Homo sapiens: one gene and its partners. The protein of the gene in region 1 interacts with the protein of each later gene in a pairwise test. Each region holds a gene or a part of one and is shown in the gene's direction. Other genes may lie near its edges. The genes, in order: TAX1BP1, LRATD2 and TRIM45.

Evidence for each region.
Region 2: the proteins of TAX1BP1 (region 1) and LRATD2 interact in binary tests that used the Homo sapiens proteins (3 or more experiments, as listed by UniProt).
Region 3: the proteins of TAX1BP1 (region 1) and TRIM45 interact in binary tests that used the Homo sapiens proteins (3 or more experiments, as listed by UniProt).

What each region holds. Positions count from the first base shown.
Region 1 is NC_000007.14:27,743,023-27,746,773, forward strand, and holds part of TAX1BP1 (tax1-binding protein 1), read left to right. Parts: intron 1-3,751.
Region 2 is NC_000008.11:126,556,620-126,560,370, reverse strand, and holds the start of LRATD2 (protein LRATD2), read left to right. Parts: upstream 1-1,892; 5' UTR 1,893-2,337; exon of another isoform or gene 2,338-2,885; 5' UTR 2,886-2,981; coding exon 2,982-3,751.
Region 3 is NC_000001.11:117,115,135-117,118,885, reverse strand, and holds part of TRIM45 (E3 ubiquitin-protein ligase TRIM45), read left to right. Parts: intron 1-118; coding exon 119-852; intron 853-2,140; coding exon 2,141-2,270; intron 2,271-3,196; coding exon 3,197-3,311; intron 3,312-3,751. UniProt on the Homo sapiens protein: E3 ubiquitin-protein ligase that plays a role in the regulation of inflammatory response.

The sequences.
Region 1 (3,751 bases):
TTTTGTCCCAAATAAACCTTTAGAAGAAGATAAAAATGTCCTCTACCCTAATATGTGTGGGCCAATATCATAGCATTTTAGAAACCAACTTATAAAAATCTAAAAAGTAAATAAAAGTGGTGCGGGTGATACCTGGGCGGAATGTCTTGGCACTCAGGTGTAAAGGATTCTGGAAATAGGGATGTCTGCAAGGGTGCAAATTAATAGACTGGGGCTTTTGCTGTTGCCTCCTAGAAAAATTGCTGATTACATTTTTTGGGAGCAGAGGTCTGTTGAGAGTTGTTAGTCTTTCTTTTTTTGAGCCACAGTGTGAATAATTGGAAACTATTTGAATGCTGGACATTTTTTCCTTTCATATGTTTGTGTGTCCTATCGGATTAAAGTTTGGAGATAATTCTAAAGGTTTTTTAGCTGAAGATGTGAAAAACTTTCAGTAACTCTATCAACCATTACCTGAATTACAACACTTCTAAGGGTACAAAGCGTTCATATTCTAAAATGCAGTGTTTCTGCTACAGTGGGTCATATGTGGAGTGTTACTAATCTGTTTCATTTCTTTATTTGCTTTGGTTTTACTATTACAGAAATTTTCAAACATACACAAAGGAGAATGAACAGTAAAATGAACCGACACTTTACTAATCTTGTTTTATTACCCCCTCTAACATTAATTTTTTCCCCTGGAGTTTTTAAAGCAAATCTTAGACATCAAGACATTTCACTTACAGTTAGTTTAGTATCTTTATTTTTTTTTTTTTTTTTTTTTTTTTTTTTTTTTTTTTTTTTTTTTTTTTGAGACGGAGTCTCGCTCTGTCGCCCAGGTCGGACTGCGGACTGCAGTGGCGCAATCTCGGCTCACTGCAAGCTCCGCTTCCCGGGTTCACGCCATTCTCCTGCCTCAGCCTCCCGAGTAGCTGGGACTACAGGCGCCCGCCACCGCGCCCGGCTAATTTTTTGTATTTTTAGTAGAGACGGGGTTTCACCTTGTTAGCCAGGATGGTCTCGATCTCCTGACCTCATGATCCACCCGCCTCGGCCTCCCAAAGTGCTGGGATTACAGGCGTGAGCCACCGCGCCCGGCCTAGTATCTTTATTTTTTATTTTTATTTATTTTTTATTTTTGAGACGGAGTCTCGCTGTCACCCAGGCTGGAGTGCAATGGCGTGATCTCAGCTCACTGCAGGCTCCGCCCCCCAGGGTTCACGCCATTCTCCTGCCTCAGCCTCCCGAGTAGCTGGGACTACAGGCGCCTGCCACCTCGCCCGGCTAATTTTTTGTATTTTTAGTAGAGATGGGTTTTCACCGTGTTAGCCAGGATGGTCTCGATCTCCTGAACTCGTGATCCGCCCGCCTCGGCCTCCCAAAGTGCTGGGATTACAGGCGTGAGCCACCGCACCCGGCCTAGTTTAGTATCTTTAAATGATAAAGACTAGAAAAACACAGAATCACCATAATTATATTATCACACATAACAAAATTACCTTATTTTTGAATTCTAATTGTTAGGACTGGCAAATTATATTTAGTATTTATCTAAATTAAAAAGCTTAATTTGGCTTCATATGTTTAATGTACAGAAGTTCTTACTATGGTCTATTTTTCAGTAAGTTCACTAAGGCTTACATTTTTGGGCTAAAGTAAAACAAGTATTGGGAACCACTGGAAAAATACTACCACAAAAGTCAAATCTGCTTTGGGCTTGAAAAAGTTACAAGAGGAGTAAGTAAAGATAACATTGAAATGCTTCCCTGCCCCCACCCCATGTTTATTTTAGCTGTATACATAACTGAGTGCCCACTATATATTATTTATCTTTTTTATAGACATTAATGCATTCGCAAAATAATAAAATTGGAATTTAGACCAAAGACTTTATAATATACAGTTTACAGCATAACACACATAAAGAAATTCTAGAGGCATTGGAACTTGGGGAAGTGTAGTAGGAAACCTGGAAGAGGGCACTGTAGCCAGCATGTATAAGCATTTCTGATTTTGTTTCCCAGCCAAATGTGTCTGGCCCCTTAATTGTTGACTGGACGTTTCATACTTATCCTTGGCTTGCCTACTTACTATACTCCTGTTTGTAGAGGTGCACTTTAGAGAAGGGGAATCAGAATTTGACATGGTAAAGCTGCTTGCTTCTACTTTCCTTTTTGTGTAGGGAGTGTACTTCTCTCCAACTGAGAGGAGGTTTGTACTTTTTCTCAGGATGTTAGTGAAGCTACACTTCCCAGGCATTACCACAAGGTGATGCAGTGACTTTGCATATTATTTCTCCACTCCCGTGCGACCTTGACATTCTCAGTGAATTCCAACATTTTTGTAAGCTTGCCTAAGTCTGTTATCTGTAGGAGGAGTGAACCAGAGGAACTATGTGGGAATTAGAAATTTTATTATTTAAAATGGGTTGATAATGACATAATTATATTTGATTGCATTCATCCATGTAAACTTTTTAAATGATTAGTAGCTATATTGTAATTTAATAAGAGTAAAAAATGACAAGGTACTGGAATGACTTTTGTAAAATATTTCTATAATTATAGCAATGAAATTTTAAAAAGATTGGAGTGTTGGAGAGAGATTAATGAAGGCCATTAATAGGATAATCACAAATTATTTTACTTTTCAGACTTGTAACCATTGTGAATACTATATTTTAAAGTGAAATACTAGTGTTTTCTATTAGAAAATGTGAAATTCAGGGGAGGGTTTAAAAATGGAATTTCTTGTTAATAGGGCTATTTAAAACAATAGAAATAATACATTTATATATACTTGTAAAAATTCAAACAATAAATTGATGTAAAATTTAAGGTCCTTAAGTCTTCTTTTTACACACATCCCTTATAAGACTATTAACTCTATAGTGTATACTTCTTGAGTTCCTTTTGATGCATTTGTAAACATATACAAATACATATATGTATACCTATGTGCTATTTTGTACCTCAAAAACTTCAGTGAACTAAAAGTATAAGGTTGGATTGTGGGTTTTTAAAAAACTGTTATAATTGAGGTTAACAGAAGTTGAAACACTTTTGCCTTGTTTTATAAAAAAAATAGTTACAGCTTTGTTGGTTTAATTTATTTTAGGAAATGATATGTTAAATTTTAAGAAAAAAGTATTATCCTTAATCAGCTTTTGATTAAAAACATGGGACGTTTATTCTAAGCTAGTTTATTTCCTTCTTACTGAATATCTTTCTTAAAGGAAGCGTGACTATTCACTCACTTCATAGAAAAATATTATTCTCTTAATTCAGTTTTGGTAGTTGTATCTAATAGATGTTGGTTCTGTTGATTTAGCTATAGTTTCTTTTGTTGGTGTCTTGTAACCAGTAGTGAGTTTTTTTTTTTTCTTTTTTTTTTAAAGAACTGGAATTGGTGTTTTTTTTTTTTTCCTTTGTGAAGCCAGTGACTTGAGATAATCATTAATGACTTCATTAGTATCATGACCTCCCTGGGAGCCCAAATTAGCTCAGACAACTCAAAGAAACAAAATAATAAAACTCTTCAGTTATTTTAGGCAGAGTTCTCCAGTGTTTGTAAATGCTACCTGTTCATTTTTCTGATGGCTTTAGGTTACCAGGTAGAGAGTATTCATAGTTAAGTCTTTCCATGAAATATGGTTGCTGGTAGCAAAGTCCCTTTATTAGTGCAGAGGTAAAGGGGGATTGCTACTGAATATACTCTTTATCTTGGAATGCTTGCAAACCTCAGGTAGGGAGAGGCTGACAACTAGCCT
Region 2 (3,751 bases), on another chromosome or scaffold:
CCAGCTATCAAAAGGCAACATTTCTTCACTCACTCACTCACAGCCCCATAAAACCAGGAAGCAATTCTTGACCTGTGGCCAAATTTTCCCCTAAGGCATCCATCAAGCATTTATTGAGTACCCACTCAGTGCCAGGCATTCAGATATAAAATGGATCAGGGCTTGTTCCCTCTGAGGCTTTATAGTTGGTCAGTTCAAGATATGTTGTTGAGCCACTATTGTGCACCTGAGAACAGCTCATCAAGACAAAAGGAGACACACCTAGTCAGCTAGGCATTGCTTCCTCACCCACCAGATCTCTGACCTAGAGTGCTGGTAGCAAATTGTCCTACAACTGTGTCCTCTCAGTTCAATTCTCCCATTCCCAGCCATCCCAGTAGCACCTAGGAGCAAAGTGGCCTCCCAAATCAGGCAGTAGCAGAGGTCTCCCAATCTGATGAACATAGGATGACCAGCCATAATCTCTATAAGCCTAACTCTTGTCTATAATATGGTGATCATATGATGGCAACAAATATCACTCAGGTAACAGCAGCCCCCCACACCATTTGCTATCAAAAGGACTGGGGTGTGTTGGATTCATTCAGTCACATGCGCCTGAGGCCAGCCAGTCTGAAATTATTGAAACAGAATCGCACAGCACACAGTAGTCTCATGTTGATCTAACTTATACTTCAGACTTGCTGAAGGACTAATTTCTATCACAGCCCTGCCAATATTGATTGTTTGGACTCAAAATTACATAAGTAGAATGATTTTTATTTTTTTCTCCTAAACTAGAAAGGATCACAGTAGTGCTAGTATATTCCTGTTTCCACTGGCTGGTTATACATGCTGGAAAAAATTAGTCAAAAGAAAGCAACTGAAGACAGAATATAGGTCTTGAATCGCATTCTTAAGTCCCCTACGAATAAGTCTGGGTGCTTGCAGTAGTGCCTAAACTTGTTTATTGTAAACAGAGCTGTTAATCCTCCACCCTCACCGGACCCATTATTTTAAAAAAATAAACAACAACAACAACAAAAAAAACACTTTGGTAGCCTACATTTAGGTAAAAGAAACGAAACCAGTGGAGAGGTGGAAGTGTCCTTTTGTGGTGGAGGTTAGTAGGCATTACTGGTCTCCTGTCACTTCCCTAAGTCAACAGGAAGGAAATATATCCACTAGGGCCTCTGCTAATTTGTTTCTAATTTAAGGACAATTAGAATTAGGATGTAGGAATTAGGCAATTCCTACATCCCCTAACCCCCCACCCCCCCAAAAAAAAGCAGTCAGAGCTGCACGCTTCTCTCACTATCCAACGAACTGGTACCTCTCTGGAAATAACGGAGGTTATGAACTTTGTACTAACTTCCAGGGGTATCTAATAAACAGAGCGGTGGTCTTGGGACCCAGTCAGTGAATAAGTCTTCGTTCTGTTTTATACTGTTTCTTTTCTGCGATTTTCTTTTCTACCCCAAAGTTTCCCACTACTAACTCTGAAAACACCTCTAGGATGACGCACTCTTCGAGCTGTCCTGGTGAAGAATCCTTTCTTGTGACCTTTAGGGCAAGAAATATGTTCCAGGAAAGAAAAGAAACGACTGTTCCTCCTTCTCCAGGTACTCTGGGAAAAAACAGGTCAAAGGGAAAAGGCGCAAACACCAAACTCTCCTTCCCTTTCTCATTTCCACACTGGCAAGTTGTGTTTGCCTTCTAACTTGTCTCGGAAGGCAAGCAGAGCTCACAGCACCAGCCCCAGGCGGCGGGTGGATTATTTACAGGGGGATTTAAACCCGCTCCGGCGCGGGGGCGTGGCCGGGCGGAGTCCCGAGGCCCGAGTGGGCGGGGCGGGGGCGGGGCTCCCGGCCGCTCGGCGCAATGTGAAAAAGACCCGAGCTCGGGGAGTGAGCGCCTGTCTCTTTAAATGCCACGGGCTGCGCTCCCGCCCGGGAGCCCGGAGCCGGATCTACAATCCCGTCCCTCCAGCTCCGGTGCTTGTTGCTCGCCCGGCCCAAGCGGGAGCTGTTGCCGCCAGGCTGCGAGGCTGCCGTCCTCTCCTCCTCGCGCCCCACCTCCCCCGAGAGCTGGCTGAGGAGGGGCAGCAGCCCCAGCTGGCGGGAGGAAGCGCGGTGTGAACAGGGATTGCCCCCCGCCTTCAAGTATCGGGGCGCTACGCAGCCGCGGGGGAAAGACATGCCCCTAGTCTGCCCGCTGCGCTGCCCTCTGCCCAGCCTCGCTGCCGCCCGCGCCGGGAGAGGAGGGACTGCCGAGCCTACACCTTCAAACTCGCCCTAGAAGTCTCGGGGCGCGGCAGGGAGCCCTTCCCCAGGCCCCACGGCCTTCACCTCTCCGCGGGTGAGTTTGTGCAGGTAACCCGAGCCTGAGGGCGGGCGCGGGGGAAGGGCGGGCGAGCCGGGAGGAGGTAGCGCTGCAGGTGAGCCAGGTAGGGTGACTCACCTGTCCAGGTCGCGCTCTGAGATCCTCGCTTGTTCCTCTGGGGATGGATGCGTTGGTGGGGAGGAGGCGTCCCCGGGGCTAGTTAGGGCCCGAGGGTGGGAGGGGAAGTTAGCAGAGGAGGGGGGGGATTGGCGTAAAGTTTCTCTTTCCTTCCCTCTTCCTGCCCAAGCTTGGCAGGTAGGGCGCAGGCGGAAGCAGTAGAAGCTGCTGATGCAATGGGCTTTTGCCAGGGCCAGGCGAAGGGCTGGGGACAGGGAGAACAGGAGTTGCCCAGTCTCCTGTGACCGTGACCTTACAGGTGGAGAAACGAGGGAAAGCTCGCTACACCCGAGACTTCCCCCTAAAATGGCTCCAGGTGCTGAGCCCCCACCGATTCTTTTTCGGAACAAAACGCCCTTTTCACGGAGGGGCTCCTGCATGGCTTTCTTGCCTTCCTCTCCCAACAGGTAGCCTCAGCCCCTGTCCGGGGACCTGTGCAAATGACCCTGGAGTTGGTTTCGCTTTCTCCCCTTGCGGCGGTGTGAACGTGTGTCCGCAGCGTGATGGGCAACCAGGTGGAGAAATTGACCCACCTAAGTTACAAGGAAGTTCCCACGGCCGACCCGACTGGCGTGGACCGGGACGACGGGCCCCGCATTGGGGTCTCCTACATTTTCTCCAATGACGATGAGGACGTGGAGCCGCAGCCGCCGCCTCAGGGGCCAGATGGCGGCGGCTTGCCCGACGGTGGGGACGGGCCGCCGCCGCCCCAGCCGCAGCCCTACGATCCGCGGCTGCACGAGGTGGAATGCTCCGTGTTCTACCGGGACGAATGCATCTACCAGAAGAGCTTCGCGCCGGGCTCGGCGGCGCTGAGTACCTACACGCCCGAGAACCTGCTCAACAAGTGCAAGCCGGGCGATCTGGTGGAGTTCGTGTCGCAGGCTCAGTACCCGCACTGGGCCGTATATGTGGGTAACTTCCAGGTGGTGCACCTGCACCGGCTGGAGGTGATTAACAGCTTCCTGACTGACGCCAGCCAGGGCCGTCGCGGCCGCGTGGTCAACGATCTGTACCGCTACAAGCCGCTAAGCTCCAGCGCCGTGGTGCGCAACGCGCTGGCGCACGTGGGTGCCAAGGAGCGCGAGCTGAGCTGGCGCAACTCGGAGAGTTTCGCCGCCTGGTGCCGCTACGGCAAGCGCGAGTTCAAGATCGGCGGCGAGCTGCGCATCGGCAAGCAGCCCTACCGGCTGCAGATTCAGCTGTCGGCGCAGCGCAGCCACACGCTCGAGTTCCAGAGTCTAGAGGACCTGATCATGGAGAAGCGACGCAA
Region 3 (3,751 bases), on another chromosome or scaffold:
AAGGAATTGAAATCAGGTTTGTTTAACTTCAGATCCTGTGCTCCTAAAATCTCTCTGCCCAACTATTCCCAACAGAATTATCCCCTTATTTCCTGTTACTGATTCTGTTTGCCCCTAGGCGGCAGAAGAAAACGACTTACCACACCATGGTGGACCTAAAAGACTTGAAAGGCTACAGCCGGATTGGGAAGCCCATCCTGTGTCCTGTTCACCCTGCAGAGGAACTGAGGCTGTTCTGTGAGTTCTGTGACCGGCCCGTGTGCCAGGATTGTGTGGTGGGGGAGCATCGGGAACACCCCTGTGACTTCACCAGCAATGTCATCCACAAGCATGGGGACTCTGTGTGGGAGCTCCTCAAAGGTACTCAGCCCCACGTGGAGGCCCTGGAGGAAGCCCTGGCTCAGATCCACATAATAAACAGTGCCCTCCAGAAGCGAGTGGAGGCAGTGGCAGCTGATGTCCGGACATTCTCGGAGGGCTACATTAAGGCCATTGAGGAGCATCGGGACAAGCTGCTGAAGCAGCTGGAAGACATACGGGCCCAGAAGGAAAATTCCCTGCAGCTGCAGAAGGCCCAGCTGGAACAGTTACTGGCAGACATGCGGACTGGAGTGGAGTTCACCGAGCACTTGCTGACCAGCGGCTCAGACTTGGAGATCCTCATCACCAAGAGGGTGGTGGTAGAACGGCTCAGGAAGCTGAACAAAGTTCAATATAGCACCCGTCCTGGAGTAAATGATAAGATACGCTTCTGTCCTCAGGAGAAAGCAGGCCAGTGCCGTGGCTATGAAATTTATGGTACGATTAATACCAAAGAGGTTGATCCAGCCAAATGTGTCCTACAAGGAGAAGGTAGGAAGGCATTTCCCATTGACATTGAGAGGGCAGTGGACAGGGAGGTGGTGTGTGAAGATTGGTGGCTTGTTCTGCTAGGAAGCATGCCCTACTGACCAGGTTACCAAAGGTGGGGAGATAAACTGATCTGAAAGACAGTGACCCCCACCTTTGCCCTTTCTGGTTTGTTCTGGCTAGGGTACAGTTAATACAGGAGTGAGGCTTGACCCTTTTCCAGTTCAGAGAAGTAATAATGGCTGAGAAACACACAGATCATGTTTTGTTTCTATCAGATGGCAGAACAGAGACAGTGCCCGTTGGAGGTAACAGCAGTGACTAGGGCCAGGTGAAATTCTGCCTGCTCAGAGAGGAGCATGGCAGGCCCTGGATTCCTAGATCAAGTTCTGAAGGGAGTTTCAGAGGAATGAGGAAGATGAGATTACGGTTTCCTTTCCTTTAGGCCCTTTTTGGTTCACATCAACTTTACTGGCATTTAAAAGGATATGGTAGGTGTTTCATTTAATTGGGGGAAAAAATGGTTTTTTTTAACGAGTGTTCCCTTTCTAATGGAAGCATATTATTAAAACATATGTTTCACAGGTCAGTAGGTCAGTCCTGATAGGAAGATTGCATCTTAATGACACAGGCATTCTTAACTGTTTGGAAGCCATAGATCTCTTTGAGAATGTTCTCTCCTACAGAAACACCCAGTAACTTGTGCATACAATTCCAGATTTTTAGACTCTTCATAAGCCTTTCCATAGACCTCATAGTAGTTCATGAACCTCAGGTTAAGAAACCCTGTTTCATCTGAATGCTGGAGTAGGGGCTGTAGCTACTGGATATCCCCCCAGTACCTTGGCATGAGCTACCAAGTTGCAGAGGATCTCAAAACATGGAGGGTCGTGAGGCTGGTCAGCTGTACTCCCTGCCTAGCCCAGCAGGATCTGGAGCTTAGGGAGGGTGGTTTTGGGGTTACTATCCTCTCTCACAGGGTCTAGAGGTTTTCTTTAAATACCTCGGTCAGTCGTGAGTATTTTTAAAGCATAGGACCTTCAGTCCTAGGACTGAAGGTAAGGTCCAGGATCCTGTGTGATCCAAAGCAGCTGCTAGCTGAGAGAACCAGGCCAACCAGGAAGGACTCCCAAGAGGCGTACTCTGGGAGGCAGAAGGGGAAGAGAAAACAAAGGGACCCAGGGTGGTTACAGTAAAGTACAACCCTTTGTTCTGAAGAGAAAAAGCAAGATGGAGATGTAGTCACTGCAGTTTACATTCGAGGTGAGGACCGAGTGTTTATCTTTTTCAGACCTCCACAGAGCCCGGGAGAAACAGACGGCCTCTTTCACCCTGCTTTGTAAGGATGCCGCAGGAGAAATCATGGGCAGGGGAGGAGACAACGTTCAAGTTGCCGTTGTCCCTAAAGATAAGAAAGACAGGTTTGTATGACACAATTAGGTGTCATGGATAACAGGCAGTGAGAAAACTGGAAACATGAGGTCCTTTAAGATATTGGAGCTGGGCACAGTGGCTCATGCCTGTAATCCCAGCACTTTGGGAAGTGGAGGCAGGAGGATCGCTTAAGCCCAAGAGTTCAAGACCAGCCTGGGCAACATAGGGACACCCTGTCTCTACAAAATTAAAAAAAAAAAAATTAGCCGGGAGTGGAGGCATATGCCTATAATCCCAGCTATTCAGGAGGCTGAGATGGGAGGATCCCTTGAGCCCAGGAGGTCGAGGTTGCAGTGAGCTGTGATTGTGCCAGTGCACTCCAGCCTGGGCAACAGAGCAAGACCCCAGGTCCAAAAAAAAAAAAAAGATATTGGAGTGTAACTCACTAGTTACGTCTTACCTCCCCATAATACTATGAAACGTTACGTGACCAAATGTGTTTTCTTGTGTGGGTTTTGTATTCAATTCTCTCTCAAAGCTATGGTCTGCCCCTCAGATTGTTTTCATCTCAAGCTTTAGAATAAGTTGAAAAATATTCTGTGTTAGACTGAATGGTACCCTTTTCAAAATTCAGTCTCCCTTTGGTACTAAATTATGCCTGGAGCATGTTTATATTTCTCTGGAATTGTAGAATGGAGGAGGGACAACAGAGCAAGAGGGTTCAACAGAAGCCTGTTGAAAAGGACACAATAATATATTCAAGGAATTTGTCTGAATATCAGACTAAATTGGAATTTATGCTGTTTACCTTCTGTTGTAAAATTAACTTCTGAAGCAAATGGAAGAAGCATCCTGTTTGGGTATATTTAACATTAATACTGAATGGGATGGTGTAGAGTTTACATTCTGAAATAGTAGCAACTGAAGCCAGCTTGTGGAAGTGAGTGGTGTTTTGACTCTTATCTCCATTCAGCCCAGTCAGAACAATGGTCCAGGATAACAAGGATGGGACATACTACATTTCCTACACCCCCAAGGAACCTGGCGTCTATACTGTGTGGGTCTGCATCAAAGAACAGCATGTGCAGGTAAGACTGGTGCACGTGCTTCCCTGAGCTCCCTGGATTCTACTGTCTTAGGATCTGGAGACATTTCACATAGGATCAGCTATACAGAGAGATTGAATAGAATCCCCATGTCTTCTTCTTCACTTTAGAAACAGCCCAGATTTTGCTACTCTTATTCTTCCTGGAGGATGCTGTTGACCATAAGAACCCTGTATCCCTGTGTCACCTCCAGGCAGTTATGCTTATAGCTTATCATTCTCCCAGTTGGTTTCTTAGGATTCTTAATATGGAGAAGATGTCTTGATCACAGGGGGTGATCTGCCAGCAGACAACCATGCATATTCAAAAAATATAATCTAGCTCAGGATTTTCCAGTTTTGTCCAGACTGTGTCTGGACATGAACACAGTTGAGAGGGTTATGCCCCCTCCTCACAATTGACTAGTCATCTATCTGCCTAAC